4 linked regions of the Homo sapiens genome follow. The protein of the gene in region 3 interacts with the protein of the main gene of each other region in a pairwise test. Each region holds a gene or a part of one and is shown on either strand. Other genes may lie near its edges. The genes, in order: TMPRSS2, NCR3LG1, C3orf52 and MRGPRX3.

The links.
Region 1: the proteins of C3orf52 (region 3) and TMPRSS2 interact in binary tests that used the Homo sapiens proteins (3 or more experiments, as listed by UniProt).
Region 2: the proteins of C3orf52 (region 3) and NCR3LG1 interact in binary tests that used the Homo sapiens proteins (3 or more experiments, as listed by UniProt).
Region 4: the proteins of C3orf52 (region 3) and MRGPRX3 interact in binary tests that used the Homo sapiens proteins (3 or more experiments, as listed by UniProt).

What each region holds. Positions count from the first base shown.
Region 1 is NC_000021.9:41,470,039-41,477,462, reverse strand, and holds part of TMPRSS2 (transmembrane protease serine 2), read left to right. Parts: intron 1-842; coding exon 843-886; intron 887-3,966; coding exon 3,967-4,138; intron 4,139-5,481; coding exon 5,482-5,657; intron 5,658-6,719; coding exon 6,720-6,815; intron 6,816-7,424. UniProt on the Homo sapiens protein: Plasma membrane-anchored serine protease that cleaves at arginine residues. Participates in proteolytic cascades of relevance for the normal physiologic function of the prostate.
Region 2 is NC_000011.10:17,347,442-17,354,917, reverse strand, and holds the start of NCR3LG1 (natural cytotoxicity triggering receptor 3 ligand 1 precursor), read right to left. Parts: upstream 3,119-7,476; 5' UTR 2,949-3,118; coding exon 2,879-2,948; exon of another isoform or gene 2,235-2,878; intron 1,454-2,234; exon of another isoform or gene 946-1,453; intron 1-945. Other genes in the region: NUCB2 (nucleobindin-2), read right to left, coding at 5,554-5,573. UniProt on the Homo sapiens protein: Triggers NCR3-dependent natural killer cell activation.
Region 3 is NC_000003.12:112,103,061-112,110,484, reverse strand, and holds part of C3orf52 (TPA-induced transmembrane protein), read right to left. Parts: intron 943-7,424; coding exon 872-942; intron 1-871. UniProt on the Homo sapiens protein: Has a role in LIPH-mediated synthesis of 2-acyl lysophosphatidic acid (LPA). LPA is a bioactive lipid mediator involved in different biological processes, and necessary to promote hair formation and growth.
Region 4 is NC_000011.10:18,128,357-18,135,653, reverse strand, and holds the start of MRGPRX3 (mas-related G-protein coupled receptor member X3), read right to left. Parts: upstream 3,084-7,297; 5' UTR 2,915-3,083; intron 1-2,914. UniProt on the Homo sapiens protein: Orphan receptor. Probably involved in the function of nociceptive neurons. May regulate nociceptor function and/or development, including the sensation or modulation of pain. Potently activated by enkephalins.

The sequences.
Region 1 (7,424 bases), on a different chromosome or scaffold from region 3:
GAGGAGGTTGGAATGAGGCTAGGCTAAAGCTGTGATTGGTAAAGAAACGTCCGTCGCTCAAGTTAGCCAGGACAGGAGGAGACATCAGATCGTGATTTTGTGGTTGTGAGCACAAGGTTCCTGTTCTGTCTGTTCAGACATCATTTCGGAGGAGGCTCCTTGTGTCTTGCCCCATCTCAGGCATGGAGGGGCCTAGTCCGATATTGACGCTCAGTGAAATAATTCAGGTTCCGCAGAGCACACGGCCCAGCTATCAGGGCGGGCCAGCTCTGCATGCCAGGGGCCGCGTCTTCCCTTCTCAGCATAGCCTGGGAAATTCACTGCAGGACAAAATGCATCAGTTACTTCCTCTTCATCCATAACCTGGGATGTTTGACTCCCAAATGAGTAACTCTTACGTTTCTTCTAATCCTAGGGAAACTATTGGTTATATTGCTTTCAACACTACAAATTTAAAGCAGTTATAGGAGCCCAGAGGTTTCCAAATGGCTTCCTTAAAAATTAGAAGATGATTTTAAATTCCAAGAGGAAAAACAAAACTAGCATTATTGTATACTTACCCTCACAACCGTCCTAGGAGCTGGTACAATTTTAAGAGAGGTTAAGTAACTTGCCCAAGGTCACACTGTGGGGATGTGAGCCGCGTACCTTGGCTCAGTGTCTGGTCTTTGCCACTGTCCCTATATGGATTTACTTACCTTATTGGAGTTGTAACTAGCAGACCCTTCTATGTCTCAGAAGACAGGAGAGGGAACATCGGAAGAAATGACTGATTTCTAAGCATGTGAGAGGCAGGTGACTCCGCACTATCGTGACCAGAATTTCCCCTGTTCTTTTTGCAGTGATGCCTGTTCTTCAAAAGCAGTGGTTTCTTTACGCTGTATAGGTAAGTTCATCTGGAGTCCCCCTTTTGATACTTCTAACTAGGAAAAGCTCTCTACTTTCAGAACAGTACTCCCTGTGTCTCTGGGGGCGTGGGAGGGAAGAAGGTGGGGTCACGGGTTGGAATGTGCCCAGCGGCGTCTCGCTCTTTCCAAGGAGCTCCTGGTTTAGATTTCCATGGCCTGTAGACACCTTCAGCCTTGGGTCCAAGGGACACCCCCTGAGATCAGGCACGCTCAAGAAGCTGACAAAGCCCTACACTTTATGCCACCCATGAGCTGGAGGCCCGGCAGGTCTCTTTCTCCAGAAAGCAAAGGGGGGTGGCGTTAGTGAGCCCTGGCAGCCACCTAACGTGGACTTGGAGCATCTGCGGGGCTGTGGTCCAGCACCACCGTGTGGCCACCAGGTGCTCATCAGCCAGTGGGACCCGGGAGGAGGGACAAGACCAGAGAACAACAGTGCTCTTGCCTCTTCTCTCCTGAATTTTGGACGGTGGCTTAGACTTGGGTGTCCCCATCTCTGTGTTTAGAGTGCTTACAGTTTCCAAACTGTTTGCAAATGTGGAAGCCACCGTCCCTCTCCTCTGGGATGGCCCAGTGCTGTCGTGGGGCCGTGGTCCTGAGCTCAGCTTTTCATTTGAAGAGGTGGAAGGAGCTGACACCGTCCCATCCCGGCAGGGCTGGCTCAGGTCTTCTTTAGGTCCTGAGTGGGGGTCCAGCACAGCCCCAAGGGTGCGTGGCACCCGCCCTGCCCTCTGCCCATGCACTCATCTCCTGGTGGAGAAGACACTCACACACAGGAAGCAGGGAAGGCAGCAGACCTCACTCACCCCTCACCCCCTCACTCACCCCCTACTCACCCCCTCAACCTCTCATTCACCACCCACCCCCTCGCCCCCTCACTCACCCCCTCACTCCCTCAACCCTCACTCACCTCCTCACTCCCTCAACCCTCACTCACCTCCTCACCTCCTCACTCTCCCCCTCATCCCTCCCTCACCCCACCCCGTCACCTCCTCACTCACCTCCTCACCCCCTCACTCACCCTTCACCCCCTCACTCACCACCTCACCTCCTCACTCACCCCCTACTCAACCCCTCATTCACCCCTCACCCCCTCACTCACCCCTGCACCCCCTCACTCACCCCTTCATCCACTCACCCACCTGCTCACCTCCTCACTCAACCCCTCACCCCCTCACTAATCCCTCACTCCCTCACCCCCTCACGCCCTCACTCACACCTTCACCTCCTCACTCACCCCCTCACCCCCTCAACCCCTTACTTACCCCCTCACTCATCCCTTCACCCCTCACTCACCCCCTCTCTCACCCATTCACCCCCTCACTCATGCCTTCACCCCCTCACTCACCTCCTCACTCACACCTTCACCCCTCAGTCACCCCCTCACTCACCCCTTCACCCCCTCAATCATGCCTTCACTCCCTCACTCACCCCTTCACCCTCTGAATTACTCCCTCATCCCCTCACTCACCCCCTCACTCACCCCTTCACCCCCTCACCCACCACCTCACCCACCCCTCACCCACCCCCTCACCTCCTTACCCCTCACCCCCCTCACTCACCCCTCACCCCCTCACTCACCACCTCACCCACCCCTCACCCACCCCCTCACTCACTCCCTCATCCCCTCACTCACCCCCTCACCCCCTCACTCACCCCCTCACCCACCCCTCACCCACCCCCTCACCCCCTCACTCACCCCTTCACCCCCTCACTCACCCCCTCACTCACCCCTTCACCCCCTCACTCACCACCTCACCCACCCCTCACCCACCCCCTCACTCACTCCCTCACCCCCTCACTCACCCCCTCACCCCCTCACTCACCCCCTCATCTCCTCACTCACCCCCTCACCTCCTCACTCACCCGCTCACCTCCTCACTCACCCCCTCGCCCCCTCACTCACCCCTCACCCCCTCACCCCCTCACTCACCCCTCACCCCCTCGCCCCCTCACTCACCCCCTCGCCCCCTCACTCACCCCTCACCCCCTCACCCCCTCACTCATCCCCTCACCTCCTCACTCACCCCCTCACCTCCTCACTCACCCCCTCACCTCCTCACTCACCCCCTCACCTCCTCACCCACCCCCTCACTCACTCCCTCACCCCCTCACCCCCTCACTCACCCCCTCACCTCCTCACTCACCCCCTCACCTCCTCACCCACCCCCTCACTCACTCCCTCACCCCCTCACCCCCTCACTCACCCCCTCACCTCCTCACTCACCCCCTCACCTCCTCACTCACCCCCTCACCTCCTCACTCATGCCCTCACCCCCTCACTCACCCTTTCACCTCCTTGCTCATCCCCTCACTTACCCCCTCACTTCGTCAATCACCCCCCCACCTCGTCAATCACCCCCTCACCTTTTCACTCACCCCCTCACTCACCCCCTTACTTCCTCACTTACCTCCTCACCCCCCACTCACCCCCTCACCCCCCACTCACCCCCTCACCCCACACTCACCCCCTCACCCCCCACTCACCCCCTCACCCCTCTCACCTCCTCACTCACCCCCTCACCTCCTCACTTATCCCCTCACCCCCTCAATTACCCCCTCACCCCCTCAATTACTCCCTCATCCTTTCAATTACCCACTCACCCCCTCACCTCCTCACTCCTCACTCACTCCCTCACTCACCCCTTCACCTTCTCACTCACCTCCTCGTCTCCTCACCCCCTCACTCACTTCCAGCCCTGCCCCTCCCATCTTCCTTTTCTTTGTGTGAGAATCTGGGGTCCCTGAGTGGTGTCAGTCCCTCCAAGACTCAAGGAGTCCCCAGGGCCTTGTTATCCAGAACACCCCCACCTGGGTCCCGGGAGACCCCATGGGATCACAGGAGTGTTCAGGGAAGTGGTGCTTCCTGGGTCTGGGTGGGCTGGAGGGGCATCCTCCCTTCCCCAAGAGGAGACCCCCAGGAGCCCCCTAAGTCCATCCCCAGCAGTGGTGCCCCTGCCCTGTCCTTGCAGCCTGGGAGACCCTTGGGAGGGGCGGGCGCTGGGTGGCTGGGCGGCTTCTGCTGGTCTCACCCCACTGGCCTCCTGTTTGTCATCCTCAGCCTGCGGGGTCAACTTGAACTCAAGCCGCCAGAGCAGGATTGTGGGCGGCGAGAGCGCGCTCCCGGGGGCCTGGCCCTGGCAGGTCAGCCTGCACGTCCAGAACGTCCACGTGTGCGGAGGCTCCATCATCACCCCCGAGTGGATCGTGACAGCCGCCCACTGCGTGGAAAAGTATGCCAGGGGCGGCGCGGGCCGGGTGGGGGCTCAGGGCTGGCCTACAGCCACCCTGTGACCTTGAGCAGGTCTCAACCCTTGCAGCCCCGGCATCCTTGTGTTTAAATGGGGAGAGTATTGCACCTGCTTCCTAGGGCTGTGAGACATCAAGTGCGCTCATGCCAGGCAGTGCATGGCTGTATGCACTGAGTGTCCCCTGCACGCAGGGCACAGGGTGCAGGTGGAACATTCTCCACGATGTCGCCGTGACCAGCGTTCCTTCCAGCCACTGTCCTCTGAGCTCTGTCCTGCCCTTGAGCAAAGCCCCTGCCCCCTGAGGTATCCTGTCTCCGGGACGCTAGTCCCAGGAGAGGGCACACTCAGACAGGCTTCAGGCTGCCCTGCTGGAAGGTCCCTGGGGTTAAGCGTTCTTGGCCACAGCATTGCTCATGCAGAGGGTTAGGTAGGGGTGAGGCTAGCCGTGACAGTATTAGCATTTATGGACGCTACCACCCCCTCCCCTTTTCCTTAAACACATAGTGCTTTTGGTCACATGCTGCTTTGGAGGAGGCCTCACTTGGCGGATGTATTTTTCTGCCTTAGAGAGAGGCTGAACTGGGTTTGACTGTTGGCCCAGCCCTCTCTTGCTGCGTGCCCTTAGACGATTCACTCAACGTCTCTGATCCATGGCATGTACAACTATAAGATGGGCATGCCCTTCTCCTCTCGGGCTGTTATGAAGGTCAAGGAAGCAAGGGCTGTTACCCAAGGGTGCTCCCTTCTCTCCCCCTCTTCACACCCCCAGGTGCTCTGGGCCCTCTAGGAACTGGGTTTCTCTCAAGGGCTGTTACCCAAGGGTGCTCCCTTCTCTCCCCCTCTTCACACCACTGGGTGCTCTGGGCCCACTAGGAGCTGGGATTCTCTTAAGAGGGAAACTCTTGGATAAAGGAAATGGTTTGATTGATATCGGACAAGTCTGTTCATTAGTATCCATTTATTAAGCACCTACCATGTGCCAGGAAATGCTTTGGCGTACAAAGGAAAATAAGGGCCAGTCCTGCTAGAAATGGCCTTGAAACCCCAGGGAGGGATGTCGGCCCATTGTGGGTGCTGCAGATTCCTTGAAGGTGATGCAAGAGCCAGAAAGAAGGATGATGTGGGGGGCTGAGGCAGGGAGTCGGGGTTGGGGGAGTGTGGGGGAGAAGGGGAGACCGAGCACCTCTTCCACTATCTCCCTGTGTGGTTTTTGGTGAACCATCCTGCCTCTGGGTGTCTTGCCTCCAGCTTCTGACGTTGGAAGTTCATCCACTGAGAGCTCTGTGTTTATGGCTCTGAGATACTGAGTCCTTCTTCTCTCCCAGACCTCTTAACAATCCATGGCATTGGACGGCATTTGCGGGGATTTTGAGACAATCTTTCATGTTCTATGGAGCCGGATACCAAGTAGAAAAAGTGATTTCTCATCCAAATTATGACTCCAAGACCAAGAACAATGACATTGCGCTGATGAAGCTGCAGAAGCCTCTGACTTTCAACGGTACGTGTGGCTCAGGCTTGGCAAGCAGGTTGGCAGAATCTTAAAGAGATGTTGATTGGAAATGACACTTGTGCTATGCCAAATGGAAGGGAGGCATTTGCGTTGAGCGAGGGTAGCGTGCAGCGGGTGGCCAATGGGAGAGGCTCACAGAGGCTAAGAGCACCTGCCGCATTTTGGGGGAGGCAGCAGCCACCACATCTGTTCTGTACTGTACTGAGTGGTGGTGATTCAAGCCAGGCATGGAAAAGGCTAGAACAGGGCTTTCCCACTGCAGCACCCTTGACATCTGGGTGGTTCTCTGTTGTAGGGCTCTCTTGTGCCTTGTAGGATGTTTAACAGCGTCCCCAGCCTCTACCCACTGGAGGCCAGTAGCTACCAAGCTGTGACAACCAGTGTTGCCTGCTGACATTGCCAAACATCCGCTTTGAGGCAAAGTCACTTCCAGTTGAGAACTACTGGCCTAAAATGTGTAAAGATCCTTGATTTTTAAAGATACATTCTAAAACCAAGTTGCTTAATTCAGGACAAACATGCTTTCTCTTAGCCTCTTATTCGGTCCCACTCTGGTCCATCCAAGGGTCTGGAATGTTCTAGCCCCATGTGGATACAGAAGAAGCAAAACCTCAGCCCTCCCTACAGCATGTCTGTATTCACATTGGGAAATGGTTCACATATAGAAGAGCGAATGCCTGAGCAATGGCGTGGTGCCTCTGGGGCGAAAGCTGACTCCATTGACTCCATCGGCTTTTTGGCTGTTGCCTCCTGTGTGTCTTTCCCGTCTTGATCACCTGGAGATATGTAATTTTGGAAGCAGAGCTAGCAAATAATTCCTCTTATAAGCAGAGCTAGCAAATAATTCTACTTATAAGTAGCATAACGTCTTGCCTGCCAGAAGGAGAGGTCTGGCAGGGGGAGAAAGTGAGAATGTGGGACTTGTTGGGATGCAGGGTCCTCTGGGCAGGGTGGCCAGGGTGCCAGGCCCAGCAGCCTGCATGTGGGAAGGCCAGGTGGAGACATAGGTGATACCCGCCTGGCTCACTGTGTTTTCTCTTCTTGAAACAGACCTAGTGAAACCAGTGTGTCTGCCCAACCCAGGCATGATGCTGCAGCCAGAACAGCTCTGCTGGATTTCCGGGTGGGGGGCCACCGAGGAGAAAGGTGAGGCTGCTCCTGGGCACACAGGACTGCAGGGCCCACAGATGGAGCATTGGGTTCGGAAGTGGGAGGTCCAGGTTTTAATCCCAGTTCTACTACTCAATGACTGGATGACTTTGGTTGATTCCCCCAGTCCTTGTGCCTCAGTTTCTCCATCTGCTAAGTGGGAGAAATCCTGCCCAGCCTACCTAATACACTGTGTTCTTATCGTGATCACACAGAGCAGCATGTGGAATGGCTTTTGAAGTATCTGGGCCATACGAGTTTAGAGGTGCAGGATCTCCTGTGTTGCACTCATTGTGAGTTTAGAGCTGCCCTGGAGATCCCACCAAGGCCTGCGTGGCTGAGTGACAGGGGGCTTGGTGAGGACGGGCATCCTGGACCCATGGTGGCCACATCTAAGCCTGTCCTCTGCCCTGATAACCACAGAGAGAGGCTCTCTCCACCCACTTCCTTTGCAATCTGCATTTCTCTCTGACAGTCTTTCAAATGAAGGGAGCCTGGCTGCTTCATTTTTATGGAGGGTTGGAAGTGCTTAGTGGCAGGCACAAAGGTTCATTTTACATATTGTTTATATCCTTCTCAAAAGCGTCTAGGCCATACAGACAACAA
Region 2 (7,476 bases), on a different chromosome or scaffold from region 3:
TTGCCATCAAACATGTCCTTTCATTAGTCACATCCAACATATCTAAATAAAGTTTTCAAAATTAATGTTAACAAAAATGTATCCAAAAACCTGCCAACTTACTCAAAGATTTGTGCAAGTCTATTTTTTAAAATAATACATTAGGGAAACGCGGTGACAAGCTTTCTGTTCTATGTATCAAAGCAAAAACAGACTTGACCTACAAAATGAAGATAGGGTCAACTGTAACCAAAAAAACAGTATGCTTCCCCCTGGTGGCCAACCAAGAAATGGAGAAACCAAGGATATGAAACAGCCAGGCCACCTAGTTGTATTGTCACTCTTAAAAACGAAAAGTGACTACCAAAAAAAAAAAAAAAAAAAAAAAAAAAAGAAGAAGAATTGGGGGGTCGGAGGGAGAAGGGAAAATATCAAAAACACTAACATGTGCTTAAAAGGAATACAAACCTGAGTGCCAGACTACATAAATTTAGAAGATTTAAATCAACAAATCAAAATTTAGAAGGCAAATTTGGGAAACCTCGTCTATTTTCAGAGCGCCCAAGCGCTCACCCAGGACCTCCATGTATTTTCATTTAAAGGTACAGAGTGTAGTACCTTAACAGCTTAACAGCATTCGCCTTTTTCAAGGACTAGATCCTTGGAATTTTCTGCAGTCTTGTTTCCAAGGAAAAGCATTTATGCATTTATCTTTTCAAATCAACTAGTGGTATAACCTACATAGAGAACCTCCAGTTCTAGAGCTCTCCAACTAGGGAGGACTGTTAACTACAGCTTTACAAATTGCTCTTTTCAACTTCATTTCTGAAATAAAACCTAACGTTCTTTAAAACATTTTCTATATCAACAACCTTTAAAGACATTCTCATACAAAGACGGGCTAGAATCTCTTGCATTAAAATCTGACGAATTCCTTTGTATGACTGGATTTTTTTTTTCTTGTACCACTTTAAATTTGCTTCCACGCAGAATAGCAGCCAGGCAAACAGATGCTCCATCCTAAGGTGTAGGAATTTCTTGTAGGCGGAAATGATTTGTTAGGCGAAAGCTTCCGAAACGGTTTTCCATTTCACAGTCTCTTCCGGTGCCAAAGTCCAGCACCAACGCCTGGTTCTGGGGTCCGACCCTCATGCAGCCGCCGCCGCGCTCCTCGTGGCTGGACGAGCCGGAACTAGCTTCCTCCAGGAGCTGCTGCTGCTGCTGCCGTCACTGGGCGCCGCCGCACAGCCAAACGGCGTTCCTCCCTCTCCGCTTCCCTGAGAACTCGCGGCCCTTCTCCACCACCACCAGCATCCGCGGGGACCGAGACCGGACGAAAGTGGCGGGGACCCAAGGCCCCTGAGGAGGGGGCGCCGGGCCCGGGAGGGGGCGCGGGACGGGCATGGGACCGGGTGGGCGCGGCGGCAGCCCACTGGCGCCACTTCGAGCTCGAGGAGACCCAGACTGATAGAGCGCGGAGGCGTTTCCAGACCGCAGCGACAGGCGTTTCCAGACCGCAGTGACAGGCGTTTCAAGTCCGCAGCGCGGAGACAAGCGCAATTTTGGCTTTCCACTTCACCGCCCACACTTCACTCGGAACTGTCTTATTTTCACATTGCTTATTGCAAATGTATAGAAATACTATTCACTCGTTTTTATTTCCACTTCCCTCTCCCATCGGGCAGCCATTCTAAGGTGTTTAACATGTAATTTTTGTTCTCTTTAAGGCTGTATCTTCTGTTTCTCAAACTGTGGAAATGGTATTGCATTGTATGTCCACTGTTTACTTGGCTCTACGCCTTCAACATCCGTTCACGCTGCTCGGCAAGCAGCAAGGGCGTGGTGTGAAGCTGCCGCCAAGGTCTCCACGGTGAGGTCCACACGCGGCTCTCCTCCACCTGCAGTGACTCGGGGCGCCCAGAGCGCGCCTCCGGGATTCCTACATTCCACCTCCACCACCCGGCACCCAGGAGCGTATTTTGGCCAGCCTAGTAAGGGTCAAGCAGCATCTTGTTGTTTAATTGCCATTCTTCTAGTTAGAAATGAGTTTAAATATCTCTACATACGCGTTTCAGCCTTTTAGTCTCCTGTTTAAGTTAACGCAGAACACGCCCATACGAGTTCCCAAAAAAGCAAGAGAACGTTTGAAGGTCACCACAAGATCAAAACACTCCCCTCCCTCTCTCAGTAAAGACCTAACTTAGCAAAGCCAGGAGGACCCACTGATATGCGGATGAATGATTTTTCCAATTTACCGATTCCCTGATTTTCTTCTCTCCTCCGGCCCCTCGGATGATGCGAGAGAGGCGCCAAATACCGAGGCACCAAACGCGCGACATCCAAGGAAGCACCGTTTCCGCTCTCACAGGTGTCGACCCTGCACAGGGCAGGCCTTCAATGTAAACCTGTTGCATCGGGGACTCCGCTTCTCACAAAGGAGGGACGCTTGAAAATAGAGCCCCCAGGCCGGGCGCGGGGGCTCACGCCTGTAATCCCCGCACTTTGGGAGGCCGAGGCGGCTGGATCACTAGGTCAAGGAGACCATCTTGGCTAACACTGTGAAACCCCGTCTCTACTAAAAGTACAAAAAATTAGCCGGGCATGGTGGCGGGCGCCTGTGGTCCCAGCTACTCGGGAGTCTGAGGCAGGAGAATGGCGTGAACCTGGGAGGCGGAGCTTGCAGTGAGCCGAGATCGCGCCACTTCACTCCAGCCTGGGAGACAGAGCGAGACTCCGTCTCAAAAAAAAAAAAAAAAAAAAAGGAGAAGAAATAGAAAAGAAAATAGAGCTCTCAGCCCCCAGGAAGTTGAGGTCCCCTGGCGGGATGCTAGGGAGCCGACCCGCGAGGACCCTCTGGCGCCAGGAGCCCCCGCCCCAGCCCACCCCAGCCGCCCCCTACCTTCGGTCGTCAGCGCCCACAGCAGAATCAGGAGCGCCGCGCACGTGGAGGCGGCAGCCCTCCACGTCATCGCCGCGGCTGCTGTTGTGTAATTTTTTTCGCCGAGTGGGAGCAGGCGGCCCGGTAGAAACCAAGGGCAGGGGGAGACCTCTGTTGCGTAAAGAGTTGACGGAGACACAGCCGGGATTTCCAGCCGGCGCTTTTGCACATCCCACTTCTTCAGATCCCTTCGGCAACTGCGAAGTCGCCTGGATTTCCCAGGTTCGCACTGCAGGAAGCCAGGCGCGTGACCAGCCCCACCCGCGCCGCACTTTAGCCCGGGGGCGGGCACCGGCCGGGGAATCCTCCCTCGCCTCCGCCCGCGGCACGAGGTTGCGCGGTTACAGCCCCGGTGCCTCTCGCGAGCGGCTCTGCGGTCCAGGACTCGGGGCATCCTCTGGGTTCGCTTAGTAAATTGAGACCGGGATCCAAGTGGCCCGGGGCGCTGCTCTAAGGAAGATGCTGACCGCAGTCGGTGATTGCGAGAGCAGGTGCACGCGTCCAGAGCGACATCTTACCGTTGGCGCGATAAACTTACATTACTTTAAAAACCAAAAACAACAAAAATTTAGCATTAAGTCGAAAGGCAAATTAAATCCCCAGGACAATTCAGTTAAACGCCTGAAGGTGGCCCTTAATTTCCCATTTCTACTAATCAAGAAGTGGCTTGCGACCTCCTGAAGCAAACCCAAATATTCTCATTCGGTGATTAAGTTTTACCACCTCTACACCAGTTTTTAAATCAATTTAACCGCAAAGTTCAGAACCCAAGTGGCACAGTAAATGTGTGTGCATTTATAACGCAGAACCTGCATTCTTTCCCCAGCAACCTGCATTCCATTTGTCTCATTGACCCTACTGCATTTTTCCTTCGCATCATTAAAAAGGATGTAATGTACAGAAAAGCACAGACAGACCTAAACTCCAATGCCAACCATGCCATCTGCTGATTATAAGACAGTGGGTAAGTGACCTCATATCCCCAGCCTGTTCACATGTCTCTAAAACTGAGAGAGTAAAAGCTTCCTTTCCAGGGTTAGAGACACTGTCACTGACTAAGCAAATAGTCACATTCTCACTTATCTGCAGAACAGAGTGCATACAGAAAGAGCTCAGAAGTGAAAGATGCGCAGAGTGCCCACAGTGGCAGCAACTAGCTGAGGGGCCTTCAGATCGCAGCCTTCCGGACCACCGTTATAACAGGTAGAGATATGCAAGGTTAAGTCCAGCTATTGAATTTTTAAAACCTAAATTACACCTCTTCTCAACCTCTGCCTCCTCCAAGGAGCCTTACCTGAGGAGACATCCTTGTCTGGTATTAGTGACATCATTAAATAACATTCCCAATGGAGGTATATGACGACTTCTTATACATGCCCAGAATAGTGATTCACAAAGTTGTGACACATACACATCACCCTGTAGAAATTATCAAATTACTCTTTTGGTAATTTTTACTGTTTTGGTAATTTTTTTGTACCCTTTTTACTCTAAAGGGTAAAACCGGCAGGTTTCTCTATTTATATTTCATTAGAATGAAAAGTCATTACCTGTGTTTTCGTTTTTACCAATATCATGTCTATTTGAACATCTTTTTTTTTTTTTTTTTTTTTTTTTTTTTTTTGGTGAGACAGAGTCTCGTTCTGTTGCCCAGGCTGGAGTGCAGTGGCGTGATCTCAGCTCACTGCAACCTCTGCCTCCCAGGTTCAAGAGATTATTGTGCCTCAGCTTCATCCTCCCAAGTAGCTGGGATTGCAGGTGCCTGCCACCACACCCAGCTAATTTTTGTATTTTTAGTAGAGACAGAGTTTCACCATGTTGGCCAGGCTGGTCTTGAACTCCTGACCTCAAGTGATCCGCCCACCTCGGCCTCCCAAAGTGCTGGGATCACAGGCGTGAGCCACCACACCCGGCCTGAACATGTCTTTTAATACTTTTGCCAACTTTCCATTCAACCCTAAAGCACACAGCAGATACCTCACGATGCTTCTCAAACAAAATAAGCATATATTCTCAGGAATTATTTATGGAAAACTCTGACTTTCTGTGTTCTTTATTGGTGCACAGCATTGAGACACGGTATTCAAATGCTGGTTGACACTGAGGTCATTTTTATGACACATTGCATCCAACTTGCTGTTGGAATATCACATACAATTTTGGAACCATATTGTAACACATATTGAAAATATCCAACAAGTAATCAGAATGGTAAATAAGGGACATTCACTCAAAGACATGTATCCAGGGACAGTATGGCAGAGACTGCTATTTGTCAACCAATATCTGTTTTCCCCTTTTTCCTTGAAAAAGGCCTCCAATATTTTCCTGGGCACAGGGATCAATAAAAGACTGCATTTCCTAATCATTCTGGAACTAAATGTGGCCATATGACCAAGTTCTGGCCAAAGTAATATAAATGGAAATGTTCTGTGTGACTTCTGGGAAATGTCCTTAAAGAGAAGGAAATGATCTTCTTTTCCCCTTCCTTCTTTCTGACAGCAGGATAGCAGATGTAATGCCTAGAGCTTGAGGAGACATCTTGCACCACAGTGTGGAAACCATGCACTAGGACAAAGGGACAGCAAAAGAGAAGGGTTCTGGGTCCCTGATGACTCGTGAAACCTCTACCAGCTTTAGAAGGACACCTCTGGACCTGTGGAACATAAGAAATAAAGTCAGTAAGCTACTCTTATTTAAAATGTTCTCATTTTCAGCAGAACCTAATCCTAATCACTACAAATGAGTAAAGGAGCTGAGCCCATTTTGTTTGGAGTAGCCTGGGGGTTTAAGAAATGGTACCAGTCTTGTAAGTCTCTGAAAAGCTAACACCTGTGTATGTGAGTACACATGTTAGGTGATGTTCTTGAAGGCAAAAGCAAGTTGGAGAGAGATTTTGGCTCAGTATAAGAAAAGCTTTCTGCTGGGCGCGGTGGCTCACACCTGTAATCCCAGCACTTTGGGAGGCCGAGGCGGGTGGATCACCTGAGGTCAGGAGTTCGAGACCAGCCTGGCCAACATGGTGAAACCCTGTCTCTACTAAAAATACAAAACTTAGCCAGGTGTGGTGGCAGACGCCTGTAATCCCAGCTACTCGGGAGGCTGAAGCAGGAGAATCACTTGAACCCGGGAAGCGGAGGTTGCAGTGAGCCGAGATCAATGCCGTTGCACTCCAGCCTGAGTGACAAGTGTAAGACTCTGTCTCAAAAAAAAAAAGGAAAGGAAAGCTTTTCTATTAAAGGAATGGGACATTTCAAGTTGCCCCTCAGCAACAATTTATTGAACTCTGCCAGGCACAATCTAGGAGTGACGAATTCAGCGATGGCTAAAGCACAGTCCTTAGCTTCAAAAAATCTGTCTAGGCCAGGTGTAGTGGCTTATGCCTGTAATCCCAGCACTTTGGGAAGCCAAGACAGGAGGATCACTTGAGCTCAGGAGTTTGGAATCAGCTTAGGCAACATAGTGAGGCCCCATCTCCACAAAAAAAATCAAGATATTAGCTGGGTGTGGTGGTGTCACCTATATTCCCAGCTATTTGAGAGGCTGAGGTGGGAGGGAGGATGGCTCAAGGCCAGGAGGTCATGGCTGCAGTGAGCCATGATTGCACCACTGCACTCCAGCCTGGGTGACAGAGTGAGACTCTGTCTCCAAAAAAAAAAAAAAAAAAAAAAAAAAAAAAAACACAAAAACAAACAAAAAACACCTCATTCTAGACCATTGTTGTTCCAAGTAGCTGTGCTGAAGGACTCTTTAAAAGTGTCCAACCTGGCCAGGCATGGTGGCTCACCCACTTTGGGAGGCAGAGGCAGGAGGACTGCTTGAGGGCAACAGTTCAAGACCAACTGGCCAACATAGCAAGATCCTGTCTCTATTATTTTTTCTTAATTCTAAAAAATAAAAGTAAAAATAAAAAATAAGTGTCCAACCCACGAAGAACTGTCATTTTGTGAAATAAAAATGAATTACTAGAGAAATGAAATAAAAAGACATAAAAATCCAAGCCCTCAATTTTTATTCTTAGATTCAAAAGACATAAAATTATTTTTGAATTGCTATAAAAGTTTCCAACAGCATGAGTAATGTTGGTTGGCCTTCTCACCATTAGGTAACAGCCAGGCATAGACCAGCACCAGTCACAGACCACACTGTGAGAAAGACCAGTCTAGACAAATGCAGATTGAGAGCCATTCTATAAAACAAATGACCTGTACTCTCAAAAAATGTAAATGTCATGAAAGACAAAATACAACTGAGGAGCTATTCCAGATCAAAGGAAATTAAAGAGACCTTACAACAAAATCCAACACACAAATCCTGGATCATGAAAAAATTATTATAAAGGACAGTATTGAGACAGTTGGTGAAATTTGAATACGGACTATGTGTTAGATTAATAGTATTGTAACAATGTTAAATTTCCCAAATTTGATAATTATATGATGGTTATGATTAAAAAAATATTTGTTCATAAGAGATGCTCACATATTTAGGGTAAGGGATCACAATGTTTGCAGCTTAATTCTGAAACGCTTCAGTCAAACAAAGAATTGGACAGAAAG
Region 3 (7,424 bases):
AATTACACTCAACTCTTGACAGCTATTACCTCCATGGAAGGGAATGGCATTAGTTATTGGTGGTGGCAGTGGAGAAGAAAGGAGGCAGAAGGGAGACTTTTCCTGTGCATACCTCTTTATGTCTTCTTTTTTTTATTTTTATTTATTTTTATTTTTTTGACAGAGTCTCACTCTGTCACTCAGGCTGGAGTGCAGTGGCGCAATCTCGGCTCACTGCAACCTCCCCTCCCGAATTCAAGAGATTCTCCTGCCTCAGCCTCCTGAGTAGCTGGGATTAGAGGCACCCACCAACACACCTGGCTAATTTTTGTATTTTTAGTTGAGACAGGGTTTCACCACGTTGGCCAGGCTAGTCTTGAACTCCTGACCTCAAGTGATCTGCCCGCCTTGGCCTCGCAAAGTGCTGGGATTACAGGCGTGAGCTACCACGCCCGGCCCCTCTTTACATCTTTAATACTAAACAAGGAGAATGTACTCCTGTATTACTTGTGCTCCTCAAAAGCAAATGCCTATACATGTATCACTCGCATCACAGCACGACCTGAGATCTATTTCTACTTCTACCCTTAGCTTATTTGAGCATTCATTGTTAAACAGAAATGGTTTACCTGGGACTGGCTTTTCCCCTCTTCTGTGTGACCCTGGTTGAATTATACCATTAATCTGGGCTTCCTTTTTCTCATTTGTAAAATAAGGGAGTTGAGCCTGTTGGTGTAAAAGACCTTCCCAGCACTGACATTCTGTGATTCTATTACAGGTTCCCTTCATGCTCTGAGGCTCTGGGAATCCCTGCTAGGTAAATGACGAAGGGTGGGGTGGGGGGATCTCTTTCCAGAGAAAGAGAGCAAAATGTAATGTTCCACACTCTTACCTGAAGTCCACTATTTCAACTGAAGTAAAATAACGACCCAGAGAGGGCGATGTACTGTACACATCTGTGAGCTAAACAAACAGAAGCAAATTAAACCACACACATTACCGACAGATCATATTACACATCACCTGACAAAGCAAAACTGCTTCTAAGGCAGAGGAGATTCCACTCCAGCCTGGAATCAACGTTATCTGGAAGCTCTGGATCAAGAATTGAGCCCACCATAAATCAAAACTCAAGTTAATGCTACTTCAAAAGAACTCCATTTATAAGGACCAAATGACTCAGTTTCTCTCAGAAGTTGCACTGGCACCCTGTGGCCTTAGTGGTGAGAATATCAGCAGCTGGAGCCCACACAGGCCTCACAGACCATAGGAAGGAGAGAAGAGAAGACCCCAAAATGGCTGCTGGACAGCAGCAGCACAGACCACTTAGCACCTGGGACATTGCTTAGCCCAGGGCTTCTTTCTCCCTTCTCCAGAGCTTCAGTGTAAAGACAAACAGCCATGCTAAGCCATGGGTCTAGCACATCCCCTGGACAAAGAGACAAAGAGGGGAACTGCAAAAATATGGAGGCTTTATTTTATGCATGAAATATTGCAAGCATCATAAAAAATAATGACACCTGTGTTTCCACTACCTAGCTTTCATGTCTTCATATTTGCTATATTGGGTTCAGCCCTTTAATTTAAGAAACAAAATAAAGCTAAAGTGACTCCTACATACTATTCAGTTCCTCCTCTCTCTCTTTCTTAATACTAACCATCATTCTGAAGCTGGCATGCATCCTTTCCTTGCATATTTTTACAAATTACTACTTATTTATGTAATCATAACAAAATATAATTTGTGTTTTTATTCAAATAAAAGGCACCATATTCTACATAATCTTCTAAAACTTGCCTTTTTTCACTCAAAATTACATTTAAGATTTACCCATAAAGTAAATCTCAATGAAAGGCATTCACCTAACTCCTGCACAGATTCCTTTAAATGAGTATACCAGCCTATCCATTCCTCTGATGATGATCACATGCACTATTCTCAATTTTCCCCATCACAACTTATGCTGAAGCAATCATCCTTAATGTCTCCATGCATCTCTTCTTGGACATGCGGGAGTTTCCAATGGGCATATGCCAAGAAAAGGAATTGTTGGGTTTAAGGGTAGGTGCATCTCCAACTTCACAAAATTGTTCTCCCTTTCCCACCCCTCCCAGCAATGTATAAATATCCATTTCCCACATCCTTACCAGCACTTAGTGTTACCAAACTTAAATTTTTACCACTCCGAGGAGTATAAAATAGTGCTTCACATTGTTTTAATTTGTACTGCCTCGCTTACTAGTGAGGTTGAACATCTTTTCATGTTTATTAACTCTTTGGGACTTTTCATCTCTGAATTTCTCACTCATTTCCTTTCCTTCTCTTGGCTTATCTGTCTTTTTCTTATCTATCTGAAGTGGTTAGTTTTATATTCTGGATACTAGTTGTTGATATTATGTTACAAGTATCTTTTCCCAGGCATTGAGTAGTTGTGTTTCAGATATCTGAATCCTAAACTAGTAGTACTAGGAACATGTGCCATCCCCAGCTACAGCCATTATGGCTTAATGACCTATTACTTTATTCAATAACAAGCAGTCGAACATACAAAAAACAGCAGTGCCCTATGGGGAGCTTACCCTGTTTCCCCTCAACTCCAAATGGAATGTCAAGGACGCTGCACTTCCACAATACACTCCCATTTAACTCAACATGTACAACCCATATCTCAAAGAGAACAAAAGATGAGAGTGCCTGCTATTTCTGCTCTTCTAATCTTGTCACTACTGTTGTGATCTTTATAAAAACCTGGCAAAACAGGCATTAATATATCTCCCCTTTTTACTGGAAAATTAAACAGCACTCCATTCCATGAGATGAAGAAAACCTGTCCCAGGTCACTGTGCTAGTAAAAGGAGAAGCCAAAATTCAATCCTACATGTTATGAACACTAAAAACCAGCTTCTTCCCATCTGACCACACTACCCAGTGAAGAAGAAATTGATATATATACAGTGAAGGAAAGTGTCTCCTGAATATCAAGGAGGAAAGAAGCTTAAAGTGACAAAAACTTTCGGAGAAAATGACTGAGTCATTGTACAGCTCTTAAGCCCCAATGCACAGGATGTTGCCGATAGGCTGACAGTCATTTAGAAAACTCGGGAACTAGGAAAGCAGCTTTCACGGGGATGCTGTGATGGAGAGGAGGATGAGGATGCTGCAGAGGAGAATCTTTTCAAGCACTAATGTCAAGCACTCATGTCTTTCTCTTCCTTTTGGATTGAGCTTCCTATGGCAAAGGTGATATTTATCCTTCCTTCCAGTCTTCTCTGCTTCCTCCTTCCCTTCTTTCCTTTATTAATCTTTAGGGCCCAGCACAGTGTTTTGCACATAACAGGCTTTCAGCAAATTTTTAAGTTAAAATTTTAAGGTAACATATGGAGTGGTCGACTAAATCATTTTTAGTGTTCACTCGAAGATTCTTTTTGATCATGCTCCTCTGCTGTACTTAGGACATATTTACATTTGGGGAGCTGTTAGTCACACTGTCCACTTTGGGCCCAAAGAAGTGAAATAGGGTGGTTCCTCAACCCTTAGTCTTGTGTCTCCCACACAATGTCTATGAGGCTTGGTGCAAACTGAGCAAGGAGCTCAGCGAATTGATTAGCTGAGTCTGATGCAGTGGCTAATTAGAGACCAGCTTCCAGAATAAGGCAGGTGCCATCATTAACTCCTAACCCATGCACAGGGTGTGGTAGTCACACAGGCTGGCTTAAGCAGAGTAATGGCCCCAACCCTGAGAGGAAAACACTGTGGCAGTGACACATGGCAGGGCCTGTGTTTAGAAAAGTCAAGGGAAAGGGCATAAAGTTCCAATACTGTGATATAATAACAATATGTATACTGTTTAGTCTCTGCCCCAGTTCCTGGCACAGAATTCCTAAAACCCTTGTTACTTCCTGAGTGACAGGGGCGCCGGGTACATCTTTTACTCTAACATTTGGTCTTTACTCCAGCTCCTGACACAGACCTGCTCCTAAATCTCTTGCAGTTTCCTGGGTTATAGGAGTGTCTTTATTTCTGATGAGGCAACTCTTGGCGGGCTGCTGGATGGGGGCTGATCATCAGAAAGACCAAGCCGCAGCTAGAAGCTTGGAACTTTCAGCCAGTGTGGTGGAGTGGGATGGTGCATGCGTGTAGTCCCAGCTACTCGGGAGACTGAGCAGGGAGAATCGCTTGAGGCCAGGAGCTTGATATCAGCCTAGGCAATATAGTGAAAACTGTCTGGAGAAAAAAAAAAGAAGAAGAAGAAATCTGAAGCTTTTGGCCCCACCTCCACCCCCATCCTCCAGAGGGGAGAGAGGCTGGAAAGCAAGCTAATAATCCACCATGCCTATGTGAGGAAATCTCCATAAAAATCCCTAAAAGACAGAGTCTGGAGAGCTCCCAGGTGGCTGAACACATTTACAAGGGAGAGTGGCACACCTGAAAGGACATGGATGCCCACATTCTGTCCCACGTGTCCGCCCTATGTACCTTTTTATCTGGCTTTTGATATCCTCTATTTTCTACAGTGTGCCCATAAATGTGATGCTTCCCTGAGCTCTGTGAGCCATTCTAGCAAATGACCAAACCCAAGGTGGGGGTTTTGGAGACCTCCAATTTGCAGCTGGTTGGTCAGAAGCACAAGTGACAACCTAGACTTGTAACTGAACTGGCATCTTTTTTTTTTTTTTTTTTTGGAGACTAAGTCTCGCTCTGTTGCCCAGGCTGGAGTGCAGTGGCACGGTCTCGGCTCACTGCAAGCTCTGCCTGCCGGGTTCACACCATTCGCCTGCCTCAGCCTCCCGTAACTGGCATCTTAAATGAGGGAAGTTTTGTGGGGCTGAACCCTTAAACTATGGGGTCTGCACTAACTCCAGGCAGATCATGTCAGAATTGAACTGGATTGCAAGACACCCAGCTGGTGGCAGATAATTGGTTGGTGTGGAAAACACACACACACACACACACACACACACACACGGCCAAAGAAGTGTTCTGCATTGAATGTGGGTATAGAGAAAAAAATAATTTTTCCCCCACAAATACCCACTTCCATTTACCTTTTATATCCAGAAACTTCTGAAACTTGACCTAATGGAAGAAAGGAGTTATTGACCTGACAATAAGACAGCAATACCTTTAGGTGCTAATTTTTGTTCCTGAGCATATTTGGTTGACGAATGAAGGGCAGGAATCTGTCACCTCACTATGCCTTACTTTGATCATTTGTAAATAAGATAATTCTTTTAAAATGTTTTTCAAGTTATTTTTATGTAATCTCATTTGCACCTGAGATACACAGAGAAAGTGCACTGGTTTCCATTTATCAGCGAAGAAACTGGCTCAAAGAAATCTGTGGACCCACCACAGGCATCAATGTCAGTCCCTGTTCTTTTGCCACTACCTAGTGATGAGCTCAAAATACCCGCAGAATTTCCTCATATCTGACTCTGTGCAAGATATATGGTTGTAAAATGAAAAATGAACATTCATTTACCTTTGAAATAGACAGTCTACTATGCAACAGGTGACACATGTGGATGCTGACTCATCTTATTTCTGCTCAGCAAATGCAAAAACCTCTCCATTAAAAAAGCAGCCAAGAGGAAAGTAGCAAGAAGCGTCTCACTCAGCAACTTGCCCCAGGAAGCAGGTGGAAGGAAAGGAGAAAAGGAGGTGAAGATAAGACATAAATGAAGAGACTTCAAGGACTTGATGGAAAAGGTGGTGGGGGTGAGGGATAAAAGACTACAAATTGGGCACAGTGTACACTGCTCGGGTAATGGGTGCACCAAAATCTCAGAAATCACCACCAAAGAACTTATTCATGTAACCAAATACCACCTGGTCCCCCAAAACCTACGGAAATAAAAAATAAAAATAAATAAATAAATTTAAACAATCTAAAAAAAATTTAAAGATATAAATGAAGAGAAGGAGAAAGAGAAATCTGGAGTAATCATCACAGGATACCAACTCCTGTGATAAAAGAAGCAATGAAATCTCATGCGTGGGTACCCAGAAACTGATTCTGATGTGACCTGGATGGAATCGCCTCTTCAGGAGCTTTTGTAGGAATCAAATCGAATGGAAGTTAGATAAACAGCACTCACTCCATTCAACCTAGCAATGGCAGAGAAGAATTTAATGGAGGGCAGCCTGCTCTTGCCTAGATTTTCTTATCAAAATTTCTGGGTCTGGCTGTGAACCACCTTGTCTTTGACAGGATGATCAGGATGCCCCACCCAACGGTCCTAGTCTGGCTGCAGAGCTTCCATCTTCCACAGAGGGTTCATTCTCCTGGGTTTCTCATCCCATGACTGACACCGCCATCCATCTGCCCAATCACTCAACTGGAGCTTGGAGTCATGCTCTCCTCACCACCACCCAATCAGTCATGGACTCTTATTGAGTGAGAATACCTCTTAAATCTCACGCAAATCTTCCTTATTTTCCCGACACTGCCCTAGTTCAAGTCTCCCTCATTTCTCACCTGGACTATTGTAACACCTTCTAACTGATCTCTTCCTCCTGGCTTTCTCCACCAAAACACAGAAAGGCTAAAAGGAAAAATCTAACTGTGTCAATCTGCTGATTAAAATATTTTGGTGCCTTATTGAAGAGTGGGAAAGCCTTCATGACCTGACGCCTGCCTTCCTTTTTAGCCTTATCTCTGCCAGCTGTCACCACAAAGCATGGGAAGGCCACAGTACACTACTTTGCAGATCCTTTAATGTCCCATGCTTTTTTATTTAGAACATTCCTACCTCATTTCAAAACTCATCCTGAGCATCACTTCACTTAACAGGCCTTTCATGCCTTCATCTTCACCTGAGGTAGCTCAGATGCCCCTCCTTTGCCACTGTACAACACACTAGAACATACCACACTATTATAAAACGATCTTTTTAGTCACTTCCTGTACTTGGACTGTGAGACCCCTGAAGGCACAGACAATGTGGCCCTGGCACTTGGCATGCTGTCTAGCACATCACAGACCCTCAATGAATACTATAGGTTGAATTAAATGTAGGACCTAAGGGAGTAAAAAGAACAGTGTCCTCCAGCATTTATGCAGCTGGAGGCCAGGAATCTTCCCTCTGGCTTTGCACTACAGTAAAGATATTTACTTATTTTTTTAACAAAGTTTTATTTTAGGCTCAGGAGAATACATGTGCATGTTTCTTCTATAGGTAAACTCGTGTCATGGCGGTTTGTTGTACAGATTATTTTGTCACCCAGGTACTAAGCCTAGTACCCAATAGTTACTTTTTTTCCTGCTCCTCTCCCTCTTCCCACCCTCCGCCCTTAAGTAGGCCCCAGTGTCTGTTCCTCTCTTCGTGTCCATGTGTTCTCATCATTTAGCTCCCACTTGTAAGTGAGAACATGTGGTATTTGGTCATAAAATATATTTATAAGCATCATTTTCTGCTAAAATCCAGACAAAGAATCCAAAATT
Region 4 (7,297 bases), on a different chromosome or scaffold from region 3:
CAGATAGAGAATGAGAAGCAAATGAAATAAGGGAAAAATAGAGGTGAGTGCGTGCCATTTAGGAACAAATTCAGGAGTTCTTTTTTGCCTATCAGAGGCCACGTTTGCTCTGGAATCCCAAGAATGCACATGGGCAGGAGCTCTCCAGGTGGAAAGAAGATGCATCCTCCTCTGGGAGTATAGAGGAGCATCAGGAGTGAGTGCATCCATCATGAGCTCTCTTAGGGAGACAAGCTGCCACAGCTCTGATTGGCCCAAAAAGGAAATGGGAGGAAAAGGAGAACCTCTGTTATCCACACTCAGAGCACTAAACTGTTTGTCCATCTATAGGTATGGTATGATATGTTTGTCTTCCTCATGAAACCCGAAGATCCGTAAGGAGTAAGTCATGCCTGTCTTTTTCACTGTGGTATCACCAACATTTAGCATGTTGTTTAACATGCTATGATGTTCTTTAAAGACTGTCTATGGTATTATCCTCATATAACATAAGATGAAGCTAAGGCCTAGAGAATTAAAGGGTTTTCCTGGTTCACAACATGAAGAGCAGGTCCAATACCAGCCCCTGGTCCCTGGAGTCCTGCACGAGACTCCAGTTCTGTTCTCTGCCCCACCATTTATTATTTCTGAGGAGTTCCTGAAAAATCTTGATGTGAGCACAGAATCAGAGACAGTCAGGGGCTGAAGAGACTGCTGGTTGCCCCAAGATTTCCTTTTTTGGTCACATAACCTTTCTGAGAATGTACAAGCAGCACAAGGACCCACATCCCAGTTTTCCTTGATGCTGGATGACATCCCATGAGCAGGTGCTGTTAAGTGGAAGAATCACAAAAGTGACAGAAGCAAGTCCTGGCTCATGGGATTAATAGAAGGAGCAAAGCCTCTCCTTCCCCTCGTCCTTTTTCCATAAGACTGGAATGCTAATGTCGCTGGGAACCATGTAGGATCACAAGGATGAGGGCAACTCTCTAGGAACTGGGGAGCAGCAATTTTTGGAATTCTGATGTATGATGCTTTGGAGCTTCTAGTTCAGATCTCGAAGAGTGTCATTTTTGTGTATTTACAGGGGATTCTTTCCAGAACCCCAGCACAGACCAAAATCTGCAGATGCTCAATTTCCTTATATGTGGTATTTGTATATACTCTATGCACTTTCTCCCAGATACATTAAATCATTTAAAGTTATTTAGAATAACTGACAAAATGCAAATGCTATATAAGTTCTTGTTATATTGTAGTTTTTCAGAAATAATGACAAAGAAATACAAGTTTGTACCTGTTCAGTACATACACAACTCCGCCACACCTTTATTTTTGGAAAAGTTTCCTCCTGTAGTTTGTTGAATCTGTAGATTCAGAACCTAGTGACCCAGAGGCACAACTATACTTTCTTGTTTAAGATATTTCTTCTTCATGTCTTTATTAGATCAGCCAAACTTATATTCTAAACAAAATACATATGTTCTTTTTAAAATTACATTTTATTTTCTATGCATTTTTAACAAATGCAAACATTTCTGCATAAAAGTGACAGTAGAGAAAGACAAGCCAAACATTAAAGTAGTCTGATAGAGCTGAAATGAGACAGGGATCAATCAGATAGAGAAAGCCCCAGGAATTAGGAGGATACAAGAAGGTGAGAGGGATAGTCTCATTTACCATGAGGATTTGCTTTCCATTCTTCTTTATCCTGTTTGACATCCCAAGAGAGTGGCTTCTATGTACCACATCAGTGGGATTCTTTTTATTTCTGGTTTCTGGTGGAATTGAGACACTGGGAGACACCAGCAGGAGACTGGAAGACAGCAGGAAAGCACCTTGGGATTTCCATCTCCTGGCTCTCTGTCTGTGTATTAGTTCATTCTCAAATTGCTAAAAAGAAATACCTGAGACTGGGAAATTTATGAAGGAAATGGGTTTAACTGGCTAATAGCTCTACAGACTGTACAAGAAGCATAGCAGCTTCTGCTTCTGGGGAGGCCTCAGGAAGCTTCCAATCCTGGTGAAAGGCAAAGGGGGAGCGAGGCGTCTCACATGGTGAGAGCAGGAGTAAGAGAGAGGGAGGAGGTGCTACACGCTTTTAAACAACTAGATTTCATGAGAACTCGTCAGTATCACAACAACAATACCAAAGGGGGATGGTGTTAAAACATTCATGCAAAACCATCCCCGTGATCTAATAATCATCTCCCACAAGGCCCTTCCTCCAACATTGGAAATTACAATCAACATGAGATTTTGGTGGGAACACAGATCCAAACTATATCAGCCTGTGTGGCTGTGCGTTGGCCACGCAGGGCTTCTCCACTTGCCTGCTCATGCTCTCCCACCCTTATGGCTACAGCTATGGCTATAGTGACAATGGTAACTGCTCCTTCCCTGTCCGTTTCAGCCTAGGGGAGGAAGTAGTGCTCCCCTATGTATTGCTGCTTAGGATCCTGACCCTTAACTCTGTGCATCTTTGTAAATACTTTCCTCATGAAACACTCCTTAATTATTGGGCCATCTATATCTTCCTTAGACCTTTCCAGATAGGCAAAGAAGAATAAATTTGAAAAGTAAGTGAAACAAAGAAACTGGCTCTATAGCAGTTCAACTCTGGGAAGAAATGCCTGCATGTCCCCTTGCTCGTTAAATGAATGTAAGAGGCAGCAGTCTCTCCATGAGGGCAGATTGAATGATTGGAATGAAGGAGGTGATATGGGGAGATAAATTAGAAGGGGGGACACCATTTAGAGCTCACACAGTTTGGGTTGACAGCACTCAGTTTCTGAAAGGAAGCTTCATGTCTCCTGTCTTTTCCTGAAACAAGCTCGTGACCCCCTGCATGTAGCACCAAGGTGGAAGCATAAGGACATGATCTTACAGCAAAAATCATAACTGACTGTGGAAGAAGAGAGTTCTTGGTACTTACCCTTATCGTTCCTTCTTTGTCCAGTGGTGAAGACCTCCCTTGTGCTAAAGGTAGAGAGCCTTTATGGGATTCAGTGACTTCAGAGGACTTTTCTGTGTTGCTTAATTCAGGAGATGCCTACAGGAGCTGAAATGAAAGCTGGTGAGCAATCCAGGCTTACGAAGATGCTGGACAGTCTTGTTATTTCCTGTATGAGGACTATGGGCAAATCAGAGGCCAGAGGTATTTGAGACACAAATCCTAACTGAGATGATTCTTGGCCTCTGTCCCATATCCAGTACATTTAAGCCTCTCCTATCACGTCCCATCTTGTTCAACTTCCTGTAAGTAATTGCTGTCCTGATTTTAAAAATCAATTATGGGCCTAGGCATCACATTAAGCAATGTGAACTATCATTATGAGGCTTTATATCCAAATGAAAAAGTAGATCATGGGACCATTCAAGGCTGACAATGGCCTGACACAATTTTTTGATGTTTTCTTTATCATAGTGGTGATATATTCATGTGTATACTTTCTTTCCAAATGCCAGAGAAGTGTATGCAAGGTGAAAATCTAGAGTCCCATTGTCCAGAGGCTACCACTTGCTACACTTTTCATTCTTACTTCATTATTATAAACTCTGAACAGTGAACTTTTTTAAATTCTGTGAAATTAAATCATTTATTATTATTATTTTTATTTCATTGGGATTTTGGGGAACAGGTGGTGTTTGCTTCCATGGATAAGTTCTTTAGTGGTAATTTCTGAGATTTTGGTGCACCCATCACCTGAGCAGTGTACACTGTACCCAATGTGTAGTCTTTTATCCCTCGCCTCTCTTCCATCCTTCCCCTCAAGTCCCCAGAGTTCATTATATCATTCTATGCCTTCGTGTCCTCACAGCTTAGTCCCCACTTGTAAGTGAGAACATATGATGTTTGGTTTTCCATTCCTGAGTTACCCCACTTAGAATAAGGGTCTCCAATTCCATCTAGATTGCTGTGAATGTCATCATTTTATTCTTTTTTATGGCTGAGTTGTATTCCATGGTATATAAATATATATATTTATACATATTTAATGGGATTGCTGGATCAAATGGTCGATCTACTTTTAGTTCCTTAAGAAATTTCCACACTGTTTTCCATAGTGGTTGCGCAAGTTTACATTCCCACCAGCAGTGTAAAAGTGTTCCTTTATCACCACAGACCCACCAACATCTATTATTTTTAGATTTTTAAATTATGACCATTCTTGCAGGAGTAAGGTGGTATCGCATTACAGTGTTGATTTACATTTCCCTAATCATTAGTGATGTTAAGCATTTTTTCCTGTTTGTTGGCCATTTGTATATCTTCTTTTGAGAATTGTCTATTCATGTCCTTAGCCCACTCTTTCATGGGATTGTTTGCTTTCTTCTTGCTGATTTGTTTGAGTTCCTTGTGGATTCCGGATATTAGTCCTTGGTCAGATGCTTAGTTTGTGAAGATTTTCTCTCACTCGGTGGGTTGTCTGTTTGCTCTGCTAATGATTGTTTTTGCTGCGCAAAAGCTTTTTAGTTTAATTAAGTCCTATCTATTTATTTTTGTTTTTGTTGCATTTACTTTTGGGTTCTTGGCCATGAAGTCTTTGCCTAAGTGAATGTCTAGAAGCATTTTTCTGATGTTATCTTCTAGAATTTTTATGGTTTTAGGTCTCAGATTTAAGTCTTTGATCCATCTTGTATCAATTTTTGTATTAAGTGAGAGACAAGGATCCAGTTTCATTCTTCCACATGTGGCTTGCCAATAATCTCAGCACCATTTGTTAACTAGAATGTCTTTTCCCCACTTTATGTTTTTGTTTGCTTTGTCAAAAATCAGTTGGCTATAATTATTTGGCTTTATTTCTGGATTCTCTCTTCTTTTCCATTGGTCTATGTGCCTAGTTTTATGTCAGTGCCATGATGTTTTGGTGATTATAGCCTTGTAGTATAGTTTGAAGATGGGTAATGTGATGCCTCCAGATTTGTTCTTTTTGCTAAGTCTTGCTTTGGCTATGCGGGTTTTTTTTTTTTTTTTGGTTGTTGTTCCATATGAATTTTAGAATTGTTTTTTTCTAGTTCTGTGAAGAATGATGATGATATTTTGGTGGGAATTGCATTGAACTTGTAGATTGCTTTTGGCAATATGGTCATTTTCACAATATTGATTCTACCCATCCATGAGCATGGGATGTGTTTCCACTTGTTTGTGTCATCTATGATGTCAGCTGTGTTTTGTAGTTTTCCTTGTAGAGGTCCTTCACCTCCTTGGGTAAGAATATTCTTAAGTATTTTTTTACAGCTATTGTAAAAGTGTTTGAGTTCTTGATTTGATTCTCAGCTTGGTCACTGTTGGTGTATAGCAGTGCTACTGATTTGTGTACATTTAGTTTGTATCCTGAAACTTTACTGAATTTATGTATCAGTTCTAGGAGCTTTCTGGATGAGTCTTTAGGGTTTTCTAGGTATACAATCATATCATCAGTGAACAGGGACAGTTTGACTTCCTCTTTATTGATTTGGGTGCCCTTGATTTCTTTCTCTTGTCTGATTGCTCTGGCTAAAACTTCCACTACTATGTTGAATAGAAGTGGTGAAAGTAGCATCCTTGTCTTGTTCCAGTTCTCAGGGACAATGTTTTCAACTTTTCCCCATTCAGTATAATGTTTGCTGTGGGTCCGTCATATATGGCTTTTATTACATTAAGGTATGTCCTTTCTATGTCGATTTTGCTGAAGGTTTTAATCATAAAGAAATGTTAGATTTTGTCAAATGCTTTTTCAGCATCTATTGAGATGATCATGTGATTTTTGTTTTTAATTCTGTTTATGTGATGTATCACATTTATTGACTTGTGTATGTTAACCTATCCTGCACCCCTGGTATGAAACCCACTTGACAATGGTGGATTATCTTCTTGATATGCTGTTGGATTGGGTTAGCTAGTATTTTGTTGGGGATTTCTGCATGTATATTCATCAGTGGTACTGGTCTATAGTTTTCTTTTTTGTATATCCTTTCCTGGTTTTGGTATTAAAGTGACATTGGCTTCATACAATGCTTTAGGCAGGATTCCCTCTTTCTTTATGGAATAGCTTCAGTAGGATTGATACCAATTTTTCTTTGAATATCTGATAGAATTCAGCTGTGAATACATCTGGTCTTGTACTTTTTGTTGGCAATTTAAAAAAAAATTTTATTTCAATCTCATTCCTTTTTATTGGTCTGTTCAGACTTTCTATTTCTCCCTAGTTTAATCTAGGAGGTTTGTGTGTTTCCAGGAATTTATGCATAACCTCCAGGTTTTCTGGTTTGTGCATGTAAAGGTGATCACAATAGTCTTGAAAGATCTTTTGTATTTCTATAGCATTGGTTGTAATATCTCTTGTTTCATTCCTAATTGAGCTTATTTGAATCTTCTCTGTTCTTTTCTTGGTTAACCTTGCTAATGGTGTATCAATTTTGTTTAAGTTTTCAAAGAACCAGCTTTTTGTTTCATTTATCTTTTGTTTGTTTGCTTCAGTTTCAATTAGTTCTGCTCTGATCGTTTTTATTTATTTTCTTCTGCTGGGTTGGGTTTAGTTTGTTCTTGCTTCTCTAGTTCCTTGAGATGTGACTTCAGATTGTCTATTTGTGCTCTTTCAGACATTTTGATGTATGCATTTAATACAATGAACTTTCCTCTTAGCACCACTTTTGCTGTATTTCAGAGGTTTTGATAGGTTGTGTCACTATTATCATTCAGTTTATAGAATTTTTAAATTTCTATCTTGATTTCATTGTTGATTGAATAATAATTCAGGAGGGGGGTGGAGCCAAGATGGCCAAATAGGAACAGCTCCAGTCTACAGCTCCCAGCGTGAGCAACACAGAATCTGACGAATGATTTCTGCATTTCCAAGTGAGGTACTGGGTTTATCTCACTGGGGATTGTCGGACAGTGGGTGCAGGACAGTGGGTGCAGCGCACCAAGTGTGAGCCGAAGCAGGGCGAGACATCACCTCACCCGGGAAGTGCAAGGGGTCAGGGAATTCCCTTTCCTAGCCAAGAAAAGGAGTGACAGACGGCACCTGGAAAATCGGGTCACTCCCATCCTAATACTGCGCTTTCCCAACGGTCTTAGCAAACGGCACACCAGGAGATTGTATCCTGTGCCTGGCTCGGAGGGTCCTATGCCCATGGAGCCTCGCTCATTGCTAGCACAGTAGTCTGAGATCAAACTGCAAGGTGGCAGTGAGGCTAGGGGAGGGGTGCCCGCCATTGCTGAGGCTTGAGTAGGCAAACAAAGCAGCTGGGAAGCTCCAACTGGGTGAAGCCCACTGCAGCTCAAGGAGGCCTGCCTGCCTCTGTAAACTCCACCTCTGGGGGCAGGCCATAG